Regions from separate parts of the Homo sapiens genome. Here regions 2 and 3 are each linked to region 1. The links come from fine-mapping of genetic effects on gene expression. A gene starts in region 1. Each other region holds a variant in brackets. All regions are shown on one strand. Distances are between the middles of the regions.

What was found. PIP is the estimated chance that this variant, and not a neighbour inherited with it, causes the effect.
Region 2: its variant is fine-mapped to the expression of LINC01303 in fibroblasts (GTEx, PIP 0.96).
Region 3: its variant is fine-mapped to the expression of LINC01303 in whole blood (TOPMed, PIP above 0.99).

Annotation. Positions count from the first base shown.
Region 1 is chr14:61,567,527-61,572,749 of GRCh38, forward strand. LINC01303 (long intergenic non-protein coding RNA 1303) reads right to left here and starts at 3,127. Exons shown (of 5, transcript NR_110416.1): 1 at 2,960-3,127; 2 at 2,018-2,151. LINC03033 (long intergenic non-protein coding RNA 3033) reads left to right here and starts at 3,014. Exons shown (of 3, transcript NR_039985.1): 1 at 3,014-3,234. RefSeq lists enhancers at 719-1,220, 1,221-1,720 and silencers at 1,062-1,131, 1,212-1,371, 2,112-2,304.
Region 2 is chr14:61,557,956-61,563,178 of GRCh38, forward strand. It overlaps LINC01303 (long intergenic non-protein coding RNA 1303), which reads right to left. Exons shown (of 5, transcript NR_110416.1): 4 at 2,788-5,223. Among named protein-coding and RNA genes, the nearest start is that of LINC03033, 10 kb to the right of the region's middle. RefSeq lists an enhancer at 3,632-4,831. The variant A/T (reference allele first, on the strand shown) is at 2,347.
Region 3 is chr14:61,474,594-61,479,816 of GRCh38, forward strand. The region is part of intron 9 of PRKCH (protein kinase C eta); the gene reads left to right. Among named protein-coding and RNA genes, the nearest start is that of PRKCH-AS2, 68 kb to the right of the region's middle. RefSeq lists enhancers at 2,135-2,234, 2,345-2,424, 3,058-3,117, 4,195-4,364, 4,962-5,131 and a cis regulatory region at 4,280. The variant A/G (reference allele first, on the strand shown) is at 2,534.

The DNA of each region.
Region 1 (5,223 bases):
TTTGCCTTCCTGGTTATTTCCTTCAACATAATGTCTCTCCATTCTACCCACGTTGCTGCACATGATAAGATTTTAGTCTTTTTTATGGCTGAGTTGTATTCCATCGTTAAATACACACACACACACACACACACACACACACACACACACACCATATTTTCTTTATCCATTCTTTTTTTTTTCTGGACACCTGGTCAACCTAGCATTTTACCTAAAGGCTAGGCAAGGGCCAATGGAGGCAGAAGGCCAAACCAGTCACAGTGGGGCCAGGGATAGGAATAAGGCAGCAGCGTGGGGGTGGAAATAGAAGAAAACTTAGGTAATTTGATCCCCAAGTGGGAGAACATGACCCCTGTCCTTGAAAATGCTGCTACTTTCAGCGGTGCTGCCGCTTGCTGCCCCTGTGCTGGGACTGACAGGCCTTGCGCTCTCCAGTCCCACTAAGAAAGCAAATTGGATTGGTCACTTCCCTGTTTAAACCTTCCAAGGCCCTGCATTGTTCTCAGGATGAAGTCAATTCTCCTTTCTCTGGCTGAGTCCTGGCTCCTCCTCAGCCCATCACTGCTACTTGCCCTCATCTCTCTGTGCCCACCGGCCACCCTGCCTTCCTGCAGATCCTACCGCCTGCGGTGTTCTTTCACCAGCCTGTCCTCTCTGCCTGCAATGCTCATTCCCTGCCCCCATGTTCCCTAGCAAACTCTCCTGCGACCGTTAAATTACAGCCTAAAAACATCCGCTTCTCTTTTCCCCTGGGGGCTGCCAGTTCCCTGGGGTAGAGTTCAGTCTGTTGTGTCCAAAGCCTAGCCAGTAGATGCTCCCATGTTTGTTGAATGAACAGAAGTTGGGACGGGAAACCAACAGACGCTCAGGACTGGGGTTTGTTTTTGTTCCTGTAAAACTGGATTGGTTCTGCAGAGGCACAAACAAGCCCGTTGATTTAGATCTATCGAGGAATTGGGGTAGGGGCAGGGGTGGCAGTTTTGCTAAGAAGAAAAGCAGGTGAAAGTGGGAGATTCCAAAAGAGACCAGAGAGAAGGCAGTGTGTCCTGCCCAATCTGCCGCTAGGGTCAGAGACCAGCTCCCTAGTCACACTCGGCCAAGGCAGGCTGCCGGGCTGACTCCAACTCTAAACAAAGCCAGGCAGCCGCCCAGGTGGGTGAAGGCTGCAGATTGCGCTCAGGCGTGACGCCGGGGTGCAGGTGGGAGCGACGCCCGGGTGCGTGGGTGCAGCGCTCGCCCGCCCGCGGTTAGGCGCACCGCGGGAACCGGTCAGGTGCGCCGTGTGGGGCGGGGCGGAGGCAGGGCGTGCGCCCCCAGGCTGGTGCCTGGGGCAGAGGATTCGCCTGCTTGACGCGCTGATGCCTTGATTTGGTCTGACAAGTGGAGGCTGCTTTGAGAAGCGGCCTGTATTTTTGACATTCAGGAAGCTAGAAATAACCAGCTGGGCTCCTGGCGCTCTGGCCGCAAATGTCTTGCGCTTTCCAGGCAACTGCCAGATTGAAGGGGCTTTTCCCCAATGTAGACCTGTGCTCTGTGTGCTAGGAGGCCGAGGTTCCAGTCCAGGCTCGGCTTCTGACTCCCTACTTTAGGAGGAATCACTGAATTGACTGCAGCTCGGCTTCTGCTCTGTAAAATGGGGCTGTTGCTAGCTGAGCCTCTTCTGCCTCTGGTAGAAAATGATTCCAAGTGGCTGCCCTGTCCACCCTAATCCCATGGCCCGAACTTGATGTCTGCTGCTTCTAGAAGCCTAGTGCTCCAAATATCTGCTCTGGGAGGGACTTGCAGATGATCCTGATTGGAAATGAGGCTGATTAACCTTTTGTGTATCATTGACTCTAGGACAATCTGTTGAAACCTAGGGGCTCTTACCCTAGACAAATTAACACACCAGCCAGATACAGCTTACAAGGGCAGAGAGTTGCTGGTTTGAACCACAGACCCCTGGTTTAACATCTGTAATCTAGTCAACCCCTCCTCTTTCTTGAAGGCTGAACCAAACACGAAGGGTTTTCCCCACCTTCCAATCCTCATACATGCAGACACCCCCTTTTCCTGCTTTCTCCTTCAGTCATCTTCCTCACCATCCCCCATGCTTGGGCACTCTCAGGAGGGAAATTGTCCTATAAATATCTGTAAAAGGCATGGTATGTCCTGTAGCAGAGAAAGCAAAAAATAAAAATATAATTCCTCCACCCCTGGCATGGCACGTGCAGAGCTCTGCCTGATCCTTCTCTCCCACAAGCCTCGGGGGTGGGTAAACAAAAGTGAGAGGTGAAGCTGCTGCAGCGAAGTACCCCTTCAAAATCTTCAGTACCCTTCAGAGCCAGCGCTGTCATCACTATCACATAAACTGTACAACTCCAACGTCAACCAGCAGCCGCCTGGCTGGCAGCAGGAAGAGCCAATGCAATTTTGCACAGTGGCTTGCTTGCCCAAGGTATTGCCTGGCAAATGGGCTTCTTGTGCAATGGGGAACCACAGGGAGGGGCCTCTTAAATGTACCTCAAAGAAACAGCTCTAACAATGGATGATTCAACAGGCTAGTAATTGGCGCTCACTCTTACCACATTGTTTTGATAAAACGACATAGCCCAACTGGGGATATGAAGGCAGTAAGTAGAAAAGCTAACCTCTTGCTACTCAAATTGTGGCTGAGAACCAGCGACATCCCATCACCAGAAGCTTTATAGAAAAGCCAGGCTCTGTCCCAGACCTATTGAAAGGAGATCTGCATTTTAACATGATTGCGAGAGGATCCACATCTTAAAGTTTCAGAGGCCTAATCCAAAGTCTTCTGATAATGATCATTAGAGTCCCAGCCACCCCCGACTTCCCCCTGGGAAAACCACAACAAATAGAACAAATTCCTCCAAGCTCTGCTCATAAGAAGAACCCACAACCCACAGACACCCCCTCACTCAACTAGAGACCTCACCCACCTGTTTGCAGAGTCACCCACCTTGGGCTACTTCTTTTCTACTATTTAATCTTCTGGGAAAACAGAGGTCTTCTATTTGGAGATAAAAATGACAAAGGAGAACCTCCTGAACAGCATCCAGTTTGCTTTTAGCTTTAGCCATCTCTCTGACCTCAGTGCTGCTGGACTCAGTTCCAAGATCTAACTGTCAAATGCTTTAGGGGAAACGGGAAGAGAAGTCCCTGGAGTAACCCATGTGCGCAGCCTGGCACTGTTTTCACTTGCCTTTGGAAATGAAGGTGCAGAAACCATGGGAGGTAAGGAGGGCACAGACTAGTGACTTCCAGTGTGGGACAGAGGGGAAAAGATGGAAGAGAAGTGCAGAAAACCACTCGGGAAAAGACAGGCTGGAGTGATGCCTGCTGAGACAGGGCCCTGATCTCCCAGGACTTCCCTTTCTGCCTGTTCTGTAGAAATGTCTCGGGTTTTGTGGTTTAGGAAAAGAGATGCTTAGCAAGCTTGTAGAAAATGTAATGTGGGCACTTTGTTGCTGTCCTGGCTTTTAAAGGACTCTGAAGCAGATCAGCTTCAAGGTATTGGCTATTCTGTTTGCAGCCTTAGAAAGACATCCTTGATGTTTTATTGTTCTGCCTTTGCTAAGAGCTGGAAACTCTCCCTGGGGAAATGGCTCACCTTGAAAGAGATGCTATCGTAGCTGAAAATGTTTTAGCTTCACTTCCAATCTCTGGTTCCTTGTGGGAAGTAACTGCTGCTGTGGTATATATGCCCTGTGCCTTTTATTTTTACCATCTTTACCTCGGTGGACACAGCTGGTTGAAACTCAGTAAAACTTATGCTTCCATGGAGATTGATTCAGACAACAGGAAAAATAAGTGTAGAAAAAAACTGCACAGTACAAGGGCTAGATTCAGGTTGTAGAACAAAGTGATTATTACTTAGAATCCTGGATTAGCAAGAGAATAAGAAAGATGCTGAGATTACCTAGTGTTATCACCATCCACGTGAAACGTAGAATAAAACTTTTTCCCCACCACATAGATATTGGGCAGTTTATTATAGATGCTACAAAGGGATTTATTATATTTTTCCCAAAATGGTTAATTAGAGGCATCCCAAATTACAACTCCTTTAGCATAACTCCCAGCTCCATGCAGCCTACTTACTAAGGACCCAGCTACTGACAGCTCAGCTCTTTGCCAATCCAACTTTTTTTCCCCATATGCTCAAACTTTTCTTCTCCAAGAAGACTTCCTGAATGATCCCAATTCATAGGGATCTCATCCTTAATGCAGGGGAAATTCACTGTTCTGGAGTAGTCTACCATACCATCACGCTCTTCTTTTTGTGTAATCCTGGATTTCTTCTCCAGTTGTTTTATTCTTGCCTGTCTACACAGATAGATCAGTAGCCTTCAATAGTCTGCATCTCCTGTTATCTTGCAGCCTCCTACTATAAACAGTAGGTGCTTTACTTATGCCAGTTGGGTTGACCTAGACAGTAGTCTCTAAGTAGCAGTCCTTGGCTCATCCTTCTGAAACCAACGAGCTCTTAGGCAGGCTGAGAAAGGGTTAGGACTGTTCACTCTGGGACATCCTTGGCTCTGTATGAGTGTTGTTTTTAAAAGCAGGGATTTTGTCTCCAGTGCATTGAAGAGATAAAACCCCATTGTCAGCATATTTCTTCAGGATCTTTCTGTGTTAGATCTCACTGCCAAGCCAGAGTCCCCACACACAGACTCTCACTTTTCCCCCATCAATAGGCTGAAGTGAGGCAAGTAGTAGAATGTGCTCAAATCATGGCCTATTCTTAATAAAAGAAACAAGGACAGCTTGGGGCTGGCTCGTCTCTTCTCAAATTCTCCTAGTGTTCTGAACCAAATGTATGAAACGAATAGATTTGTTTTATTCGCAGGTATTAATGCTTCTCCGAAAGCAGTTGTTTGGGTGGCTGGAATATCAGTAGTCATTGACCAATAAGGCTTGCAGGTGTGAATCAGAGCAGTATTCTGGACTTCCAGAGTAGAGCTGCCATCTACTACTCTACATCACCTTCATCCTTACAGAATCACTGAGACCATTCATTCATTCACAAGCAGTTGTGTCTGCTACATGCCAGGCACTTGTAGTAGGCATTAGAGATACAATGGCAAGTGAAACAGACACTGCATGTAATCTACTGAGAGAGACTGGGAATTAATTCAATAAGTAAAAGTAAGTATATAATTATCAATTGTGATAAAGGCCCTGAAGCAAAAGAATAGGATGTTCTACAAGAATATTACAAGA
Region 2 (5,223 bases), 9.6 kb before region 1:
GAGCAAGAAATACTAGTTGCTGTTATGGTTTTTATTACTGCTGTTTCATGGCGCTGAGATTACGATCGGTGTTTGTCCCTGCAGCATAACCTAGCCTATCCTGACTGATAGGCGTGCCATGTGTGGAGGGACCAGTCTGACAACATATGGCTCCCAGGGTTAGAACTAGGAGCACCTCAGGCTGTAGCAGGAGTCATAGAATGTGTTATGGCATAGCATAAAAATGAACTTTTCCACCAAGGTCCCTAAATATGTAATAGACTTCCTTTGGAGGGAAGATCACTGGACATCTTCAGTCTACAACCCTCGTTGGGGATGATGGACCTGGACCGGAGGGCTCTCCCAACCCTGAGAGGCTGGCGTACCACAGTGTGGAATGGGCTTAGCAAGCACACTATTATTGTGGCGTTTGCCCTAGGGGGCCCACTGGGGCAGGCCTGAGTTGGCTTACCATCATGTTTCCACTGGCCACATGCCAGGCCCCTGCTGCTTTCACTGTACCACACAGTCATGAATCTGTGCATAGCATTTCTGGGGGCTCAGCAGGGTGTACAAAAGGCATAGCAGCTCAGATGGCAATGAGATCAAACGAACGGCAAGGGCTCTCTCGGCCCACTCTTATGCAGAATGATAAGTAGTCCTTTGGGGCTCATGCTTGCATCATTAGCAACCTGGAGGCATTAGGAAACCTCTGAAGTTCACCCCTACTGATTTGTCCCTCATTATCCTTATTCTGCCCTCTAGGAACTAGAGCTGAGCACCTTTCCTAACAGTGCTGAATGCCAGTGTAAAGATCTGCTCTGGGGAGGTGTGTGTTCAGAGAAAGCCCCGGTAGGGGGATGAAGGAAAACATGTTTTTAGCATCAAAGACCGGGTTTGAGCACGTGCCCCCTTTTCCAATGGTTGGCTGGAGTTGGATCACACTGGCTCATGAGAGCTGATTGTGCACATCTCTTTCAAGTTAGTGCTCGGAGAGCTCACAGTGGTAGCTTAAAATTGGTTATTGTGGGAATATTTACACCATGGACATTGGTAAGTGTTAAAAGTCAGGCCTTTTTTTTTTTTTTTTTTTTTTGAGACTGGATCTCACTCTGTTGCCCAGGCTGGAGTGCAGTGGTGTGAGCCTAGCTCAATGTAGCCTCAAAGGCCTGGATTTCCTGGACTCAAGTGATCCTCCCACCTCAGCCTCCTGAGTAGCTGGAACTACAGGCTCCTGCACCATGCCCAGCTAATTTTTTTTTTTTTTTTTTTTTTTTTTTTTTGCTTTTGTAGAGATAAGCTATTGCTGTCAACTCAGGCTGGTCTTGAACTCTCTTAGCCTCAAGCGATCCTTCTTACCTGGGCCTCCCAAAGTGCTGGGATTACAGGCATGAGCCACTGCATCCGGCCAGGACTTTTATTAGTTTTATTATTTAGACAGCTTTCCAGCACAACCTTGCAAATAGGGAAATAGTGAGAAAATCATGGTCTTTGGAACCAGGCAGGACCAGGGTCACCCTGACTCTGCTCAGCTGTTGTCATTGAAGGGGGTGTGGAGATACTGAAACTTCCGTGAACCTTAGTTTCCTTGTCTGTAAAATTAAGAAACCTTAGTTTCCTTGTCTGTAAATTAATAACTAAAACCAAAATATTAACTACCTCAAAGGGTAGTGTGAGGATCAAATGCGATAATGTCCACAGATTGCTAACTAAATTAAGCTCCTTCCTTTGGGGCACATAGAGAACAACTTCCAGGGAGAAAAACAAAACACCCCTGAATTGCAGCTTTTTTGCTTTTAGCTGTGGAAAACATTCCCAGAAGCTTCGCAGCCTCGCATCCTCGTACCCCATTGGCCAGTTTAGCGTCACATGACCATCCCTAACACCAATCACTTGGCAAGGGAAAAATGACAGCCAAGCCACAGCTCCTGAGGGAGCCCTGGAGCCCCTGTTGGCGTTAGTGGGATTTTTAACGCCCCCTAGATGGTTCCAATGCGCAGTCAGAATACCGAACCAATGGCTGAGAGTCTAAGTCTCGGACAAAACCTTAGCCCCCGGGGGCTGGAGAGAGGTTCATTCTCTCCTGAAGGACAAGGATAGAGAACCAAGTCAGGGTTCCGGGAGTGTGGGATCGGGGAGGAGGAAGGATCGCTGTTTATCAGGTAATCAAAAGTGCAGACTCACTCTCCATTCCCAGCTACTGGACAATCGTGGGGCAAAGAGCTCAGTGGGAAAAATCAAAGGCATTAAAAATGGTTATTCTTAGAGATAAGGTGTATAACTATTGGAAAACAGAAATAAAGTCTTGAATTAAGCTTTGAGAAATGGTTCTATAATAGTAGGTGGGAGGGAGAGAGTTAAAAAAGC[A/T]TTTGCAACTTATCTGAGAGGGTAAGACATGGCCAGTGATACTTAACTGAAGAGGACTGTTTGCCCTGTCAGTTCTGAAGCTCCTGTTACAGCACTGAGTTAAGCCCTGTGAACACAACATGTGTTTATTTATTGTAGACAAACCCTGCCACAAAGCCACAGGCACAGCACACTTCTCTGTTAGGTCTGTATCTCTTAGAATATTAGGACCCTAACTGGGATTCTAGCAACTTACTTCCTGAGGCTCAGAGCTGCCTCCTGGATTCAGAGAGCCTGTCAACAGCGTCTGCTGAGTATATAACGTGGACTGTGAGAAATATGGACTTGGAATCAGGAGACATGGATTTGAAACTTGACGCATTCATCCTGGGCCGGCTGTTAAACGCTCCCAATCCTTGTTCTCTTCCTCTATTAAATGACAATACTAATAACGATACCCACCTCATAAGATTGTGATGAAGATAAAAAAGGATAAGTTGGCTGGGTGCATTGGCTCACACTCCTAATCTCAGCACTTTGGGAGGCCCAGGGAGAAAATCACGTTAGGCCAAGAATTTGACATCAGTCTAGTCAACAGAGCGAAACCTCATCTCTTCAGAAAACAGAAAAATTGGTCAGTTATGGTAGTGTGTGCCTGTAGTACTAGCTGCTCAGGAGGCTGAGGTGGGAGAATCACTTAAGCCCAGGATTTTGAGGCTGCAGTGAGCTATGATAGCACCACAGCACTCCAGCCTGGGTGACAGGGCAAGGCTGTTTCTTTAAAAAAAAAAAAAGAGAGAGAGACAGAGAATAACTTGTGAACTCTTAATTCTTAATACAAATTACATTTGGTTGAGAGATCAGTATATCCGTATTTCCCCATCTAAAGTTCCCATAGCCATCAGTCAAGGGAGGGAGGAGAAGAAGCACTTTCCAGTTCATCCTGGAGGGGGTGGAGTTCAGACACTGCTTCTAAGAGCAGTCCCCCATCTCTTCACTCACCCTGCTTTATTCCCCAGCCACCCTCACCCTCATTTGATTCCATTTGCCCGGAAGGGATGAGGAAAGTGGAACCAAGGATTTTTATTGTTTGTGTTTCCCACCACTGTCTGTCTCAGAGGCAGAACCTGAGAAGTCTGGAATTTCTCCCTGGTCCTCTCTGCACAGCCCCCAGTGCCACCCGTAAAGATGTCCATTCCAAGTGAAAGCCACTGCACTTCAAAAGCAGCAGAGGTGGGTTCTCCTTCATGTTCCCTGTATGTGAGGGAGAGAACCAAACACCAGGGTCAAACAGAGGCACTTCCAAACCTGTGCCTTATTTCTGGGGAAAAAAAAAAAAAAAGTGAGACTGATTCAGTCTGGGACATGGTAGCTTTCTGTCTCAGAAAGCTGGGCAGGACCAGAGAAAGTGGCTTTGTGAAACGCAGGGACAAAGCTAGCTCAGGGCTCTGCTCTTTCTCAGCAGACCATTAGGGGAATCAGGGCAGGCCTTCCCCTCCCAGCTGACTTGGAGCCACACAGTGGCTTCCATGTGACTCCATGGCCAGTGCGACAAATGCATGGCCTTGGCTGAGGAAGCACAGGGGCTGTGGGGATGACTGGATCCCAGGTCCCAGGAGAGATAGCGAGACATGTTGGAAACACTGTGTCTGGAATCTTGTGCTTGACTGCTCAGGAATGCGTGGTCTGGGTAACTTTCTGGTTTGACTTACAGGAAGGTCTGATGGGGGCAGAGCGGGAATGTTGTAACAGCCCTAGATCACCTTGGAAAAATACTGTTTGCCTGCCAGCCCGGAACTGCCATTCCAGGAAGCAGCTGCTGGTGAATCAGCAGCCTCCTCTTTCCTTGTGGCTCCAGGAAGCACATGAAGGGCCTCCCCCACCTCCTCTCCAGGGAGGGAAATGCCCACTAGCCATATACAGGCTCTTCTGGAAGGGACAGAGGTGGGGACTCCATGGCAGACTCTCCATTCCGCCCCACCCCCCACCCCGCAACACACAAAGGGAGTTGGAAAAGGGATGAGAGACCCCTAAGCCTCAGACTCAGGCTTTTGATGTAGAAAATCATACATGGTTTCTAAGTCTCTTGTCTGGAGTTCACAACAATAAAGCTAGGTAGAAATCTCTACACACTGCTTGGCATGGGTTACATTTGCCTCAACATAATGTCTGTCTCTTACCTGCAGATCCAGCCTGGGGCTGAGAAACTCACAGGAGGTTGTCGGTTGGCTCTGGTCAAGCGGCTGTTTGGGCATGAGTGCCATTTGTACTCAAGGTCAAGGGGCAGCCTTAGTAGGTCAGCTGGAAGAGTCTTGGGAAAAGGTAGGGGGACCGTAATGCCAGCTGTCCATTCCCTCCACGGGCCCTGTGGTGCCTCCACCTGGGTGGAGAGTCCCTGCTTTCTGCCTTTCCATTGGCCAATCTCTGGCCTCCTCCTGAGGTTGCTGCTGTCCCTGGAACAGCTTTGGGCTAGTGGACACAGCAGTTATGCCTCAATTTCCCTATAGCTACATGGAGCCAATTAAACAGTGGACGGATTTGGAGAGGTGGATCATTTCAGATTCGCTCCTGGATTTTCACCCCCACTTAAGAGAGAGCTAAGTCTCCTTCTTTCTTCTCTCTCTCTTTTGCTCTTTTTCTCCTTGTGTGTGTCTGACTCACCTCTGTGCGGTTACATTTAAACACCAGTTTAGATCTCAATGACCCACATTCAGCCTTAGTGACTATGAAAGCAAGGCCATGCTCACTGATGACTCAGGAGAACTGGGGCCTTGAAAGATGAGCTGAGTCAATGAATGTGAGCTGTGGAGTTTTTACCACTCCCCCTCTCCCAATCCTTTTGTAATGTACCCACTCCCTTAGCTTTCTGAGTGTCAGTGTCCTTGGCCTTCCAGGGCT
Region 3 (5,223 bases), 93 kb before region 1:
ATACCTAATGTAAATGACGAGTTGATGGGTACAGCAAACCAACATGGCACATATATACCTATGTAACAAACCTGCACGTTGTGCACATGTACCCTAGAACTTAAAGTATAATTTTAAAAAAATTTTTTAATAGTTTGGGAAGAAATTGTGGGCATGTCATTTGCTTGAACAGATTTTGTTCCCCAGCCAGAGGACCAGAGAAGAGTTTGTCATGGCTACAGTGGAGGAATCAAACTCAGAATAGCATGTGAAAGGCACATTCCACACAGAAACTTCGGCCCGTGCATCAGCACTGCAGACAGGGGGAGAGGAAATGAATTCTCAGCCAGTAGATTCCCAGGCATCACCTTGAGGCAGATATGGCATATTCTTGGCCATAGTCTCTACTTCTCTAACTGGGCAAAGTGTCTAATCAACTATAACCCAAAATATCTTCCCACATGGCATAAGTGTCGAATTCATACATAGATCAGAGGGAGAAATGAAATTGTGGTTGTCTTAAAAGTTTACACAGTTTAGGGATCTCCATCATGAAAAATGATCTAAATAAATGAAATGGTATTTTTACTCTTTATCCTACAAGCCCTATACAAACTAAGTCCATAAATATCCTATTTGATGCTTAAACCAAAAGCTTTATAAAGAGAATTTCACTATGTGAAATAATGACTTGAAGAAATCCTATTGTGGATGCTTTTGTTAAGTTGCTAAACCTTTTTTAAAAAGTAGATAATCATCCAAGATATCTTCTTTGTGACTCTTAAGTTTTAGTGTATTTCAAATGTGGATAGTTTTTGACTAGGAGGTTTGTTCAAACGTTCTTCTCGACCACTAGGGGGTGCTCTAAAGGTTAGTGATGTCTAAATGATTGACCAATCAATTAAAACACCGTGCCCAGTTAGCAATCATCTCCACTGAGAGATGCCTGCTTTACCAGGCTAAAAAAATGATCTTTATCATGGCATAGAGACTATAAAAGCTGTGTCCTTTTATTTTCATTAACCTAATTAGAAGTCAAGCTAATTGTAGGACTTCATAGAACTGGCATCGGGAATAGCATGCAACTGTTAAAAAAATCATGGTCTTGATGACTAATTATATCAGGAAATAATATGCAATATAAATGAAAAGAGAAGTGTATGTTTTTTACTTTTTCCTTTCTGTTTTTAAAACATGCTATAAAATGTTAAGTATAATTAGGACACAAAGGAAAAATTAAATCTAGTTAACATTACCTTGAAAACTTCTTATTTGCCCTGAAATCTCCAGTTCTTTGGAAGCTAAAAGCTTGAGACTTCTATATCTGGTTGTCAGGATTAGGGTGATTTTATTTGAATTTTCTTTATTTTCTTCTCAATTTTCTATCTATTTACTTTGTAATTACATTTGAACTATGGATATGTAATTAGTTTTATAAATAGAAAAATCAAAGCTTTATAAAGGAAAATATAGCATCAGCAGACCTGATTGTCCTACTTAACTCTTCCACAAACTGTTTTAACTATGGGCAAGGTACTTCACTTCTTTGCCCTTTGCTTCTGTAAAATGGTTGGGTGAAACGAATCTTGGCAGTTTGTTCCAGCTCTTCTAAAGTTCCATTTTAAATTTTACCAGGAGACAAAAATGGTTCCTATTATGTTCACTCTTGAAGCATTTATTAACCCTCACAATTGGCCAGGCACTGTGCTTGGTGCTATTAAAGATATCTCACTTAGTATCTGGGCTCTGCCTTCAAGGGTTTCCGGTCCCCCATGGAAAAGAAGACCAAGTGCACAGATCCATCCCAGCCCTACACAATGATACTGGAAAGCTGTATGTGGACCAGAAATGCCAAAGGAGGTTCCATCAGGAAGAGGGGACTTGTGCTCTGACTCTGCTGTACCCCTGATCATATGTTACCACTTATTTATGCTTTAAAGAACATCCTGGCCTGGATGTTTCACAGTGTGTTAAACTGCAAGGTAGATTTCCTCTTTGTTTCCCTGGTCTACTGTATATATGCCAGTAAGCCTTGTCAGGTTTCATTATGAGAGATGGCTATAATGCATCCAGATTACTAGGAAAACACTTGGTCTTTGAAAAGAGCTGTGTGTCCCTCTAGGTTTGAAATGCAAAGTCCTAAGGCTTTGTTATATTCAGGACATATTTCACCTTCCCAAAGACTAGTCTCAGCTCAGACAGGATGTATCTTGCCTGTGGGCTTGACACAGGGGTTGCTGGGTGATTGAATTAACCTCTGACATCTTCTGGGCTGTGCAAAATGATAAGTTCAAAAAAAAAATGCAGCCATTAGACTCCTTCTCATTGTTTCTTCCTTGAAGCCTTTGTAATCTTTCTTAATGTGGTTAAATTCAAGTTATTTCCAGTTCAGACATGGTGCAATCAGATTTCCTCATGCGGGTGCTTTTCCACTGTGACCTCTTTGACGTCAGTAACTGTTTCCTGTTTATTTGAACTCCCTGCTCACCCTGTAGATGACTTTGTCTGAGAAAAATAATAAAGCAACGGTACTTAGGAGAAGTTCAACACTGCT[A/G]TCTGTTACGGAGATTTCCTTCTCCTTTCCCCCAGCCGTCAATAGCACTCTGCAGCTTTTCATACAGCATGAGCTTGTTATTCATGTAGAAATACTCCAAGGCAGTTCTTAGAACTTGGGTAAGTAAGAATAGATGTGGCTCCCAGCTTAACATTGCCTTAAAGCAATAGCTACATTTTTCATAACTTTTACGTGTTATGTCTATCTTTGAATTATTTCCAAAAGGTAATCTGCATCCTCACTATAATTCTGAGTATGGTGGCTATTTCCTACTGCCTTGGTTTCTGGAATGATACATCTTCAAATGCAGTCTTTAAATCATAGAGACAACAGATTTTTTCTTTAAATGGAGACAAATCTTTGCAATCTGGTTCTGAGATTGAATCAACTTTATAGAAAGGAAGAATAACTGCTATAAAAAGTCTCGCTTACAGTAATATGTTTTTAGTACATAAGGAGGGCATTTGTTTTGCAATAATAATTATTATAAAGCCCCTAAAATAGAAAATATGAATTACCAGTCAGTGTTAGAAAACTTATCAGAACTGAAACCTTTGTTAGTATGTTTTGGTTATCAAATCTAGTTTTGTAACCCCTTGCTTAGCAAGCATTTCCCAGAAAGAAAAGTCCTTACCCGGTCAAGGCCATTACCATATAGCATCGGGAAACATCCCTGTGTCCCAACAGCTGGGCTAGGACTCCTTCCACCTCCTTCGACCCTCTATACCCTTGTCCCACACTGAGGGTTGGGGGAGCTGCTGCAGTTGCTGTTTCGGCTGCTGTTTCATTCCTGTCCACTTGTGAGTGTGTGTGTACCTCCGCCAGTCTTGGAGGTCTGTGAAGGAGGCCTCGAGACCCAGTGCATGCAGCTCACTGCCACGTGTGCCACAGCCACAGCCAAGGGGCCTTCCTATGCCTCATGCATCAGGCCCTTTGGAGCCCTGGGAGCAGACGGCCATGGCGGCTGAAGCTGCAGTGGATGCACTCATGATGATGAGGATAATAATAGTTGCTAACATTTCTTGAGCATTTCACTTATGGTATGCCAGACACTATTCAAAGCCCTTAGCTTAAATCATTTAATCCTCACAAACCTGTGAGTTGGGTTGTCTTATTATCCCCATTTTGCAGAAGTGAGTTTTGTGAGAGAGAAGCTAAATACAGCACAGCAGGAGTTGCTCTTGGACCTCAAGCATCCTGGCCCAGAGCCCAGGTGTCGCCACTGCCCTGGGCTTCCTCTTAGTCATACCAGGGACTTGGGCACTGGGCACAAAATCTCCTCTTTATATAATGTAGTGGTACCAATAGCTTCTATTGATTGAGATTCTTTTCTGGGCTTGGCACTGTATGAGGCACTTGGCTTCTGGTTTAATCTTTACATGATCACTGTAGTTATAGATGTTATTATCCCAGATTTATAAATAAATAAGGAAACTTCTTACCCCTTAAAAATGGGTGTGTGTGCCATGCATGGTTGCTCACGCCTGTAATCCCAGCACTTTGGGAGGCCGAGGTAGGATTGCTTGAGCCTAGGAGTTCAAGACCAGCCTGTGCAACACAAAGATACCCAGTCTATACAAAAAATTAGCCAGATGTGGTGGCACAAACCTGTGGTCCCAGCCGCACAGGAGGCTGAGGTTGGAAGGATCACTTAAGCCCAGAAGTTCAGCGCTGCAGTGAGCCATGATCCTGCCACTGCCCTCCAGCCTGGGTGACAGAGCAAGACCCTGTCTCAAAAAGAAAAACAAAAATTGTGTGTATTTTAGCTGAAATTCTCCTGGTAGCAGAAAATTTACTTCAGGTAGTAAGAAAACTTTCTTAAGGCTATGCAAAAAAAAGAACTAAAAATAAAGATTCAGAGGTACAACGGATGTCTCATGCAACCCAAGGGCAGGAGTTGGCCAGCTCTCTCGGCTGATCTGAAACCAGAAAGACATGAGGAACCCTGGCAGTTTTGCTCTTGGCTCACTCACCCTCCCTGATCTCTTGTCTCTGCCTCACTCTATGTTTCTGCTTCATTCTTCTCCTTCACCCACCCACCTGTCCATCCACCCACCCAGTCTTTCTCCACTCTCTTATACCCAGGCATTTCCCACGTTTACACTGCAAAAGCAGTTTCCGTTTCCTAACTCATGTTTCCTCAGTTCCTGCACACAGCCTAGACTAAATTAAAAGCTTTTTACCTCAGTTTCAGTTTTCTGGAAAAGAGACTCTGAGCAGGTGCAGCTTGATCTAACTGGCTGTGCACAGATGCTGAGCGTTTACCCATGCGGCCAGGCTGGAGCATGGGTAAATGCTGAGGAAGGGATCACCATGAGCTGAGCAGATGCCTCCAAAGATGTTTGCCCCAGTGACCTTACAGGATCTTGCCCTGCCTGGTCCATGCTCGCTCTCCAGTCACTTTCCTTAGTTAGTATCATCTTGTCACTGGTACCATCCTGGCATAGCACTTTCATCCACCCGGATGTTATGTCTCTTGTTCATACAAATTGCCCATCAGCTTTAACTCCTATCGAACAGCCCTTAATGAGGGGGCCTTAGGGAATGCACCTTACTTATACTGACAGCCATTATTCGGGGGATATTTTTAGCCCCTTGGGCCTGGGGAAGGAATAGTTCTGAACTGATAGCCAGGGCAGAGAGTGGACCCAGACTGCAGCAGGTCAGTGGCATCAGAGCAAGTGACGACA